2 separate regions of the Homo sapiens genome follow, and region 1 is linked to region 2. Evidence: fine-mapped expression QTL. A gene starts in region 2. The other region holds a variant in brackets. All regions are shown on one strand. Distances are between the middles of the regions.

What was found. PIP is the estimated chance that this variant, and not a neighbour inherited with it, causes the effect.
Region 1: its variant is the best candidate, but not a certain one, in a credible set for the expression of LAMP5 in esophagus muscle (GTEx, PIP 0.69).

What each region holds. Positions count from the first base shown.
Region 1 is chr20:9,486,070-9,490,474 of GRCh38, forward strand. No RefSeq gene overlaps it. Among named protein-coding and RNA genes, the nearest start is that of LAMP5, 26 kb to the right of the region's middle. The variant ACT/A (reference allele first, on the strand shown) is at 2,138.
Region 2 is chr20:9,512,231-9,516,635 of GRCh38, forward strand. It overlaps LAMP5 (lysosomal associated membrane protein family member 5), which reads left to right and starts at 2,360. Exons shown (of 6, transcript NM_012261.4): 1 at 2,360-2,686; 2 at 3,223-3,395; 3 at 3,770-3,901; 4 at 4,026-4,131. The coding sequence starts at 2,623. It overlaps LAMP5-AS1 (LAMP5 antisense RNA 1), which reads right to left and starts at 2,768. Exons shown (of 5, transcript NR_109957.1): 1 at 2,534-2,768. RefSeq lists an enhancer at 3,295-3,879.

The DNA of each region.
Region 1 (4,405 bases), 26 kb before region 2:
CAGGCACGGAACATGGTTTTCTCAGGGAGTGATTCCAGCTGCTAAGCCTCATGTTTGATGTCTCAGGTTTCTTTTTATTTGTAACCTTCTGAGTGTCTGCTGTTCACTTCCTCTAAGCTGGACTGCTGATGATTTCAACTAACTTTGTCATTTGACAAACACCTCCTCCTCCTCATCCTCCTCCCCCTCCTTCTTCTTCCTCCTCCTCCTACTCCTTCTTCTTCTTTCTTCTTTGACTTTCTCCCTCCCCCTCCCTGTCTTTTCATTTTTTTGGTTTGCTTCTAAACCTTCTCTCTTTTTCCTTTGGGCTCCCTGGTCACTCAAATGACCTCCTGCCACAGTCTTGGATGCTAATATTAAGTAGCTGCTTTCGGACTGGTCTGTTTGAGTTATGGGTCCTAAAATTGCAGATAAACGGGGAATTACTTTACCACATTACTTTGTCCAATTGCATAAAATATGGGACACAGATTTTTTAAATGCAATAGTCTAGCAATGGAAATATATGGTATTGAGTAGTTAGACTGATTTTAAAGCAAAATTCTTAAAAGAAAAATATAGGAGCATATATTAGGTATTAATAAGAGGAATGTATTTAAATATATTTCGAATAATTTAAAAGTATATTATGCTAAATAATATATGCTGAAATAAAATTCAGCAAAGTAAAAATATTTTCTAAGGCTTGGAAGTCTATTAAGCTAAACGTCTGCCAATCTTATGTCCCAGCAATTACACTCTAAGAGTAATGAGTGTAAGCCAGACATGGTGATACACACCTGCAGTCCAAGCTACTTGGGAGGCTGACAATATAATTCAAGGCTATGCCTCCTCTTTAATCCCAGAGTACAAAGTAGTGTTCTATGATCGCACCCAAGAATAGCTACCACACCCCAGCGTGCAATACGTAACGAGACCCCATCTTAAAAAAGAAGAAGAAAAAAGAAAAAAAGAAATGAGTGTATTGTGTATGTGTTCATCAAAAAGCATGTTCTTTATTCATAATAATAAAAAGCTAGAAACAAATCAGATGTGTACCAATAGGAGGATGCATTGATGAAATGTAGTATATTCACAGGGTAGAACACATGAAAGTACTTACCTTATGATTCCACATACATGAAGATCAAGGAAAGGCAATGCTAATCTTGAAGGAAGTCAGAGTAGTGGTCCTCTCTGAAAAAACCTTCCAGGATGATGGTGATGGTCTATGCAAGTGGTTCTCGAAGTGTGTATCAAGGATCCCTTGGCAAGCCATTGTGTCCCCCAAGAGACTGTCAGAGGGTCTGTGTAGTCCTCTTGTTTCCAAATCCGTCTCTGTGGGAGGCCAGATTTCTTCATATACTGCAGTGAAAATGACATATCACAACAGACCGAATGAAGAAAAAGACATTAGAACTCAGATGACTTCTGTAAAGCCATACGTTAAAGACATTTGCAACAATGTAAAACAATGCCACTCCTCCCACCAACTTTTAGAAAATACAGTTATGTTTCACAAAAAAGTTATTGTAATAGTACAATATTGGTTATATATTAACAAGTGACAGTTTTGTTATTTTTATTGAATTGAGAAATATTTTGAAATTCCTGTTTCAAATTTTTAACATAGTAATGCTTACAGATATAATTCACATAAACAAACTCTGAGTTTTTTAAAAATATTAAGAGTGTTAAGGAATCCCTGAGGCCAAAGATTTTGAGAACTGCTGGTCTATAACTTACGCTGCGTGGAGGTTACATGGGTGTTTATACAGGTAAACATTGATCAGGGAATCAGGGAATACACCTAAGATTTGTGTCTTCCATTGCATGTATAATTCTCAATTAAACCCATGTTTTAAAAATATAGCAATAGATATATGTTCATGGTATAAAGAGAATGGGGGGAATGAAATATAATTTAGTATACAAAAATACATATACACATTCAGAAGACCAATAGGGATGATGCCAAAATAACAAAGTTTACTTCTGAAGCCTGTTGCCTAGTGGAAACCATCGAAGAGGCATAATTACTCAGAAGAGTTTTGAGCATAAAATTAATTCAGCAGGCTTTGCTGCTCCACAAGGAAACTATTCTACTCCTCTCAAAAGCCTGTGCTGAGTGAGGGAGGCAGAGTTGGATGTGGAATAG[ACT/A]CTCTTTATTCTTCCCTTCTAGCATTTTCCATGCCAACTCTCCAAGTCTGCAACAGAAAATGATTTGAAACAATACAAGAGTAACTTAAGAGAGAGCCTCTCACAAGGGACAGGAAATGACACACCCGAGAAAAATAGCAGAAATATCCACTTAGGAAAGGTGGCAGCTGTCAGATTAAAGAGAACCCAGATGATGAATTTGGCATAAATTCTCCCAAGGGGATCTGCAGTAACATTAAATGATAGTGCAAAGCAAAATGGAAATGGGTGCAACTGGGATCAGCTGAGATAGATGAAACTTTCTACTTGTAGAAGTCAGTGTGGCAATTAACAGTCTAATTTGGGATCCCACTGACTACAGCTTAGATCCTAACTCCGCTATTCACTAACTGCGGACTTCAGGCATCCTACTTAATGCCGCAGAATTGGAGCTTTCCATCTGTAGAATGGATGTAATGCCACCTACCTCATGGTGCTGCTGTGAGAATCAAGTTAGCTTTTGAATCATTTAATACATACAGTTCCAGGCATATCCTAAGTGTTCAAAGAGTGGTATTTTGAAGATCATTTGTGGCTGTGTTTACCTTTTTAGCTGAGAACTCCTCTTCATCTTAATACATACTCTATAGAAACTCTTTTAGGAATTTTAAAATAATATCATGTCATTATTTTTGCATGATATATAAAGGTATGATTTTAAATATTTGGAAAAATGTATTAGATTGATATACTTTTAATAATTGGTTAGCAAAGTTCATTTCAATAAGATGTTTAATAGAGTAATATTCATTAGATACCTCTGAAGAGACAAATTCCAACTTTTTCAGTATACCAAGCTTTAAAGGAAGATAATACATTTTATTTATTCATTTATCAGTTAATAGATATTTGGGTTGTTTCTGATTTGGGGCTATTATGAATAATGTTGCTATGAACATTCACATACAAGTTTCTGTGTGGATGTATGTTTTCTTTTCTCTTGGGTATATACCTAGGAGTAGAATTGCTGGGTCACATGGTAACTCTACGTTTAACTCTTTGAAGAACTGCCAGACTGTCTCCCAAAGTGGCTGCGTCATTTCACACTTCCACCAGCAGTGTATGAAGATTCTGAGTTCTCTACATCTTTGTCAATACTTATTACCTTTTTTATTATAGTCATCCTAGTGTGTGTGTCGTTGGTATCTTATTATGGTTTCGACTTTCACTTCCCTGATCCTTAATGGTATTAAGCATCTTTTCATGTGCTTATTGGCAAGTTGTATATCTTTTTTTGTAGAAATATATATCTCAGAACCTTTGCTCATTTTAAATTGTGTTGTCTTTTTATTACTGAGTTGTAGGAGTTCTTTACACATTTTAGATACTAGTCCTTTTTCAGATATATAATTTGCAAAATTTTTCTCTCATTCTGTGGGTTGCCTTTTCACCTTCTTCATGGTGTCTTTTGAAACACAAAAATTTAAATTTTGATGAAGTTCAATTTGTCTATTTTTCTCTTTTGTTGCTTGTGCTCTTGGTGTCATATTTAAGAAACCATTGCTTCATCCATGGTCACTGAGATTTATGCCTGCTTTCTTTTAAGAGTTGTATAGTTTAATCTCTTACATGTAGGTCTTTGATCCGTTATGAATTCTTTTTATATCTACTGTAAGGGTGAATGCCATTCTTTTGTATATGGATAGCTAGTTGTCCCAGAACCATTTGTTTTTGTTTTTGTTTTTACATAAGTTCTAGAGATCTACCGAGCCTCTGTTGAAAAAACTTTTTCTCAATCAAATTGTCTTGGCATCCTTGTCAAATATCAATGGATTACAAATGTGGAGGTAAACTCACTGTTAAACTCCCATCATGTCCATTGGCATTGCTTAAGATGTGGATGACCTTCACCTAGCCAAATCCCATGTGTCTCTTCTACATGCTCATCAAAACCTCTCTGCAATGTTTGACACAGTCAACCATTGCCCCATTCTTGAAACACTCGCTTGTCTTTGTCTTCATGACCTCAAACTATGTGGAGGCACAAACTTCCCATGCTCCAGTCCCACCTTATCTAACAAAATGCTTTCTTTTCTTCCTTTCACGAGAAAAGATGGATCTCAGGAATCTTTTGTCTATGATGCTTCCATCCCATGACACCCTTCCAAATTCTTCCCTACTCACAATGGAATGCAGAATTTATGACCCAGACCACGTCTGTTAGCCATTAGTTCTAGACTTTTGTCTTTTACACACTTATTCTTATCACCTCATGTAGATTGCAAGT
Region 2 (4,405 bases):
GTATCACAGTGGATAAGATGATAAATTAATGGGCATTTGTTAGCCATGTTTAAGATTAAATATTAAAAAAGTCATTAAACTGATTGTGCTTTGAAAATAATCCCCCCAGAAAAAAAGAGTTAAAATTGCTTTCTTTCTTCTTTCAACCCATTTGAGTACTCTAGGGTACACTCTCCAGTGTCAACAAAGAGATCATTTATATCAGGTATAATTTTCAAAGGAACAACCATCTCATTTGTAAATCAACTACTACATTTTAAGATCAATGACCAATGCTACTACTCACCTAATCTTTTATTATTAAGGCAGATAATCATGAATTAATTCAGTTGATCTTTTAACAACTTATATAGTGAAGATATCTGCAATAACATACTGCAAGAGAAATTGTCAAAATCTTTTATAGGTGTCTCTCCTACTTGTGTAATGATAAATATCTTTTGGTTTTCAAAGCATCAAGCATACTGGAAGTAGTAAGTATTCGGTTAATGTTTATGGATCTATTTGTACTTTGTTTATTTATACTCATTGGCCCATTTGGTTTAACTAGCCATCCCCTGAGTTATTTTCCCAATTTTTCAGATGAGAACAAATAAAATCTTCAGAAGGTCACAAAAATAATAAGTAGTGAATCCTGGACTGAAATCTACTCATTTCTGTCCTCATAAAATACTGGAGAGAGAGAGAGAGAGAGAGAATAAATACTTTATTACATGTCTCATTGTTTTCCAGTTTTACAGTACTACAGGAAAATAAGTGTTTAATAATAATTGCTAACATGAAAAAATGTAACACATACAAATGTTATCTCTTCCACTTTCAACTGATGAGAACTGACGTTTTATCAATCTTCTGTATAAAATCATTTCTGTTAAGTTCTGTAAAATTTGCATCAATTCTTCTATATATAATCATCTTTGTAAAGTTCTTGAGAAATGTTTGGATGAAATACTGAACTACAAACATAAAAGTCAAGATGTCAAAATATAATGTCAATTTTAATATTACTTTATACTTTGAATTGCTAGTGATCTAATGATTGATATAGGAATATGTTTGAAAGCCAAAAACATTATATAGATACTTTGTGGCAGATATGTCAGAATGTGATTATACTTAAAACAGCATTCTATAAATTTGAAGAATGTGAATTAATGATAGAGATTTCAGATTTCAGATTATTATTTGATATTGAATATAGATTTTTATGGAAGTCAAAATATGGAGTAAAAATATTATATAAGGAGAAATGAAGATAATCTCACAGAGTTAAAGCATGTGATTTTTGTATTTTAATTCTAACTGACCATGTGACATTTGGGAAGGTCATTTAATTTATTTGAGCCTCAGTTTTGGGGTATGTAAAACCACAGTAACTCATATCTTTCCTTGCCTACCCTCTAAGATTGGGGAGAATCAAATTAGATAATGCAGGTGAAATACTTTGCAATTTTCCCTTTAATATGACATTGTTTTATAACATTATATTACTGATGCAACATTTATTTGCATTATGAAATATCTTCTAAGGAATAAAATATTTGGACATCACTACAATTGATGAGGACTGCATGTGTATTTTTGAAAGCTGTATTCTGATTTACAGAGCAAAAATAAAAAATAAGCAAGCTACCAAATATGTAAATACAGGAATTAGCCCAGTAGTATTTGTTCTTCTGTTCCACTACAGGCTTTAGAGTAATATCAGTGTGTGTTTTTCTTACATAACTATGTGACATTACTTAGGGCATAATTCTAAAATTTCTGTCCTAGGAGACACTAGATAACTCTCAAAAACTTCTGATTTGCTTGCATCCCTTTTTGGCAGAGTGGTCACAGTATAATGCGGGAGGGTAGGTGACCCCAGAGTTCAGAGTCCTCATGCACCCGGGAGCAAAATTCACAGGAAAATAAGCCCACATGGAGCTACTGCATTGTCTGATGGCCTCGTTCGAGGAGGCGTCAATTTAACTTTAAACCCATGAGCTCATTGAGAGCAGGGGAGAGAAGGGGATGTCTCCAAATTCAGGAAACTGTTGCCATAGCATTTTCCCTTCTCTATTCCTGCATAGCCCTCCTCCCCCGAATCAGCAACAATTTTTGCTCCACCGTTTTCTTTCGGGAACCAGATGCGTTTTCAGAAGACAGTACTCCAGTGATAAGGTATCTACACCACTTAATAACTGTACCTGGTAAGGAGATTTAATAAGGCTGAGGGTGGTATTAAGTTTCTCAGAACAGACTCATCTTTGCGGATGCAGTTGCAGAACAGGAAACAGACCCAGGGAGAAGTTTAGTCCCCCCAGATCTCATTGGCCCTCCGCACAAGCCAAGCCACAGCCACTCCTGCCACACAATCGGATTGCTTTCAGCACTCGCAGCCGTGGACCGCCGTGCGGTCCTTTCCTCCGCAGTGAGCCGATTTGCTCTGCCAGCAGCTGTCGGTGCCGCGCTCGACACCGAGTCCTAGCTAGGCGCTCACAGAATACGCGCTCCCTCCCTCCCCCTTCTCTGTCCCCCGCCTCTCGCTCACCCCGGCCCACTCCAGCGGCGACTTTGAGGGATTCCCTCTCTGGCGGCCTCTGCAGCAGCACAGCCGGCCTCATTCGGGGCACTGCGAGTATGGATCTCCAAGGAAGAGGGGTCCCCAGCATCGACAGACTTCGAGTTCTCCTGATGTTGTTCCGTGAGTAGCGATTTGGCGACTGGGAGAGAGGACGGGCACTCTTTGCAGAGAACAGAGCCGGCAAAGTAAAGTCAATTAGCTTGAGATAAAAAATATGGCCCTTAATGTTTTGCGGTGTTTTTTCTTTTTTTCTTTTAGGGGAGGAGGGAGGGCCTTCCTCGCCGGTGGCAGGGAATTCCCCTGAGAGCCATACACCTCTGTGGCATATTCCAGACAGAGCCTAGACAGGCCAGCTTCGTGAGGTCAGAGCATTGGCAAGAAATATTTACTTTAAAATCCCAAGATGTAGAAAACAGCCAGCTATATTACAAACAAAGTCAGGATTTTTAATTTTTTTAACTGTATTTTCATTATAAATTAACAGCGAAGGAATGAGGCTTGTTAGACCCGGGTTAGAGAAACGGCTCGTAGAGCGCACAGCTGCTGGCAGAGAACTTTGTCACTCCAAAGCCTGCAGAGCACTGTCTCCCCACCCTAGCGCCCGAGACGCGTGGGCTGAGCCCTGAACTGATGGAATTGTTTTGTTTGTTCCGCAGATACAATGGCTCAAATCATGGCAGAACAAGAAGTGGAAAATCTCTCAGGCCTTTCCACTAACCCTGAAAAAGATATATTTGTGGTGCGGGAAAATGGGACGACGTGTCTCATGGCAGAGTTTGCAGCCAAATTTATTGTACCTTATGATGTGTGGGCCAGCAACTACGTAGATGTAAGGAATCTTTCCCCCCCCTCAGCTTGCTCCTAGGGCTCCAGGGCGAAGGGCACCCTTCCTCAAGGCTCTTCGAAGACCTGGGTTGCCCGCCTTCTTTCCCACACCCCGGCAGGCTGCTCCCGAATGCTGCATGGGGATTCCAGCTTGTAATGCCTTCTGTTCCCCTGCCTGCTTTGAAAGTAAACCCCCTTCTCTCCGCTTCCCTATCGGGGCTGCACGTAGAGCATCTAACCGCATGTTCCCGGAACCTGGGATGCGCGCGCGCAAAGGAGCGCCCAAGCGTGCAACCCAGAGTTTGGACGCGCCGCCCTTTACAGCCCCCGCCCCGGGGCCGGGCGAGCTGAGGGGGCGCGGGGCGTCTGTGTTCCCAGCTGATCACAGAACAGGCCGATATCGCATTGACCCGGGGAGCTGAGGTGAAGGGCCGCTGTGGCCACAGCCAGTCGGAGCTGCAAGTGTTCTGGGTGGATCGCGCATATGCACTCAAAATGCTCTTTGTAAAGGTAACTCCGAGCCCAGCGGGCAGAGGGGCCGCAGGCTCCGCGTGGGTGTGGGAAGTGGCGGCCCCTAGGTTTAAGAACCCAGACGCTGCGGGGACGATTGAAGCGCACCTCCCCGGCTCAACAGGAAAGCCACAACATGTCCAAGGGACCTGAGGCGACTTGGAGGCTGAGCAAAGTGCAGTTTGTCTACGACTCCTCGGAGAAAACCCACTTCAAAGACGCAGTCAGTGGTGAGTGGAGGCTGGCATGGCTGGGGAGGGAGCCTGGGAACTCGCAGAACAGGCTTGGAGAGAGAATTCCTCAAGGTTTTGGAAACCGTCCCACGCTTTGAGGTCCCAGGCCAAGTCTTCCCTCGGCTTGCTCTTTAGGGCGGAAGAGGCGGGAGCGCCCATGAGTCTTCTGGGTCTCAGGCCTTGTAGATCCGCCAGGAACCGCAGGCGTGGGGACCCAAACGTCACCCGTGGCCTGATCCTAGATAAGAAGTCCCTTGAAGGCCTGTCGTTC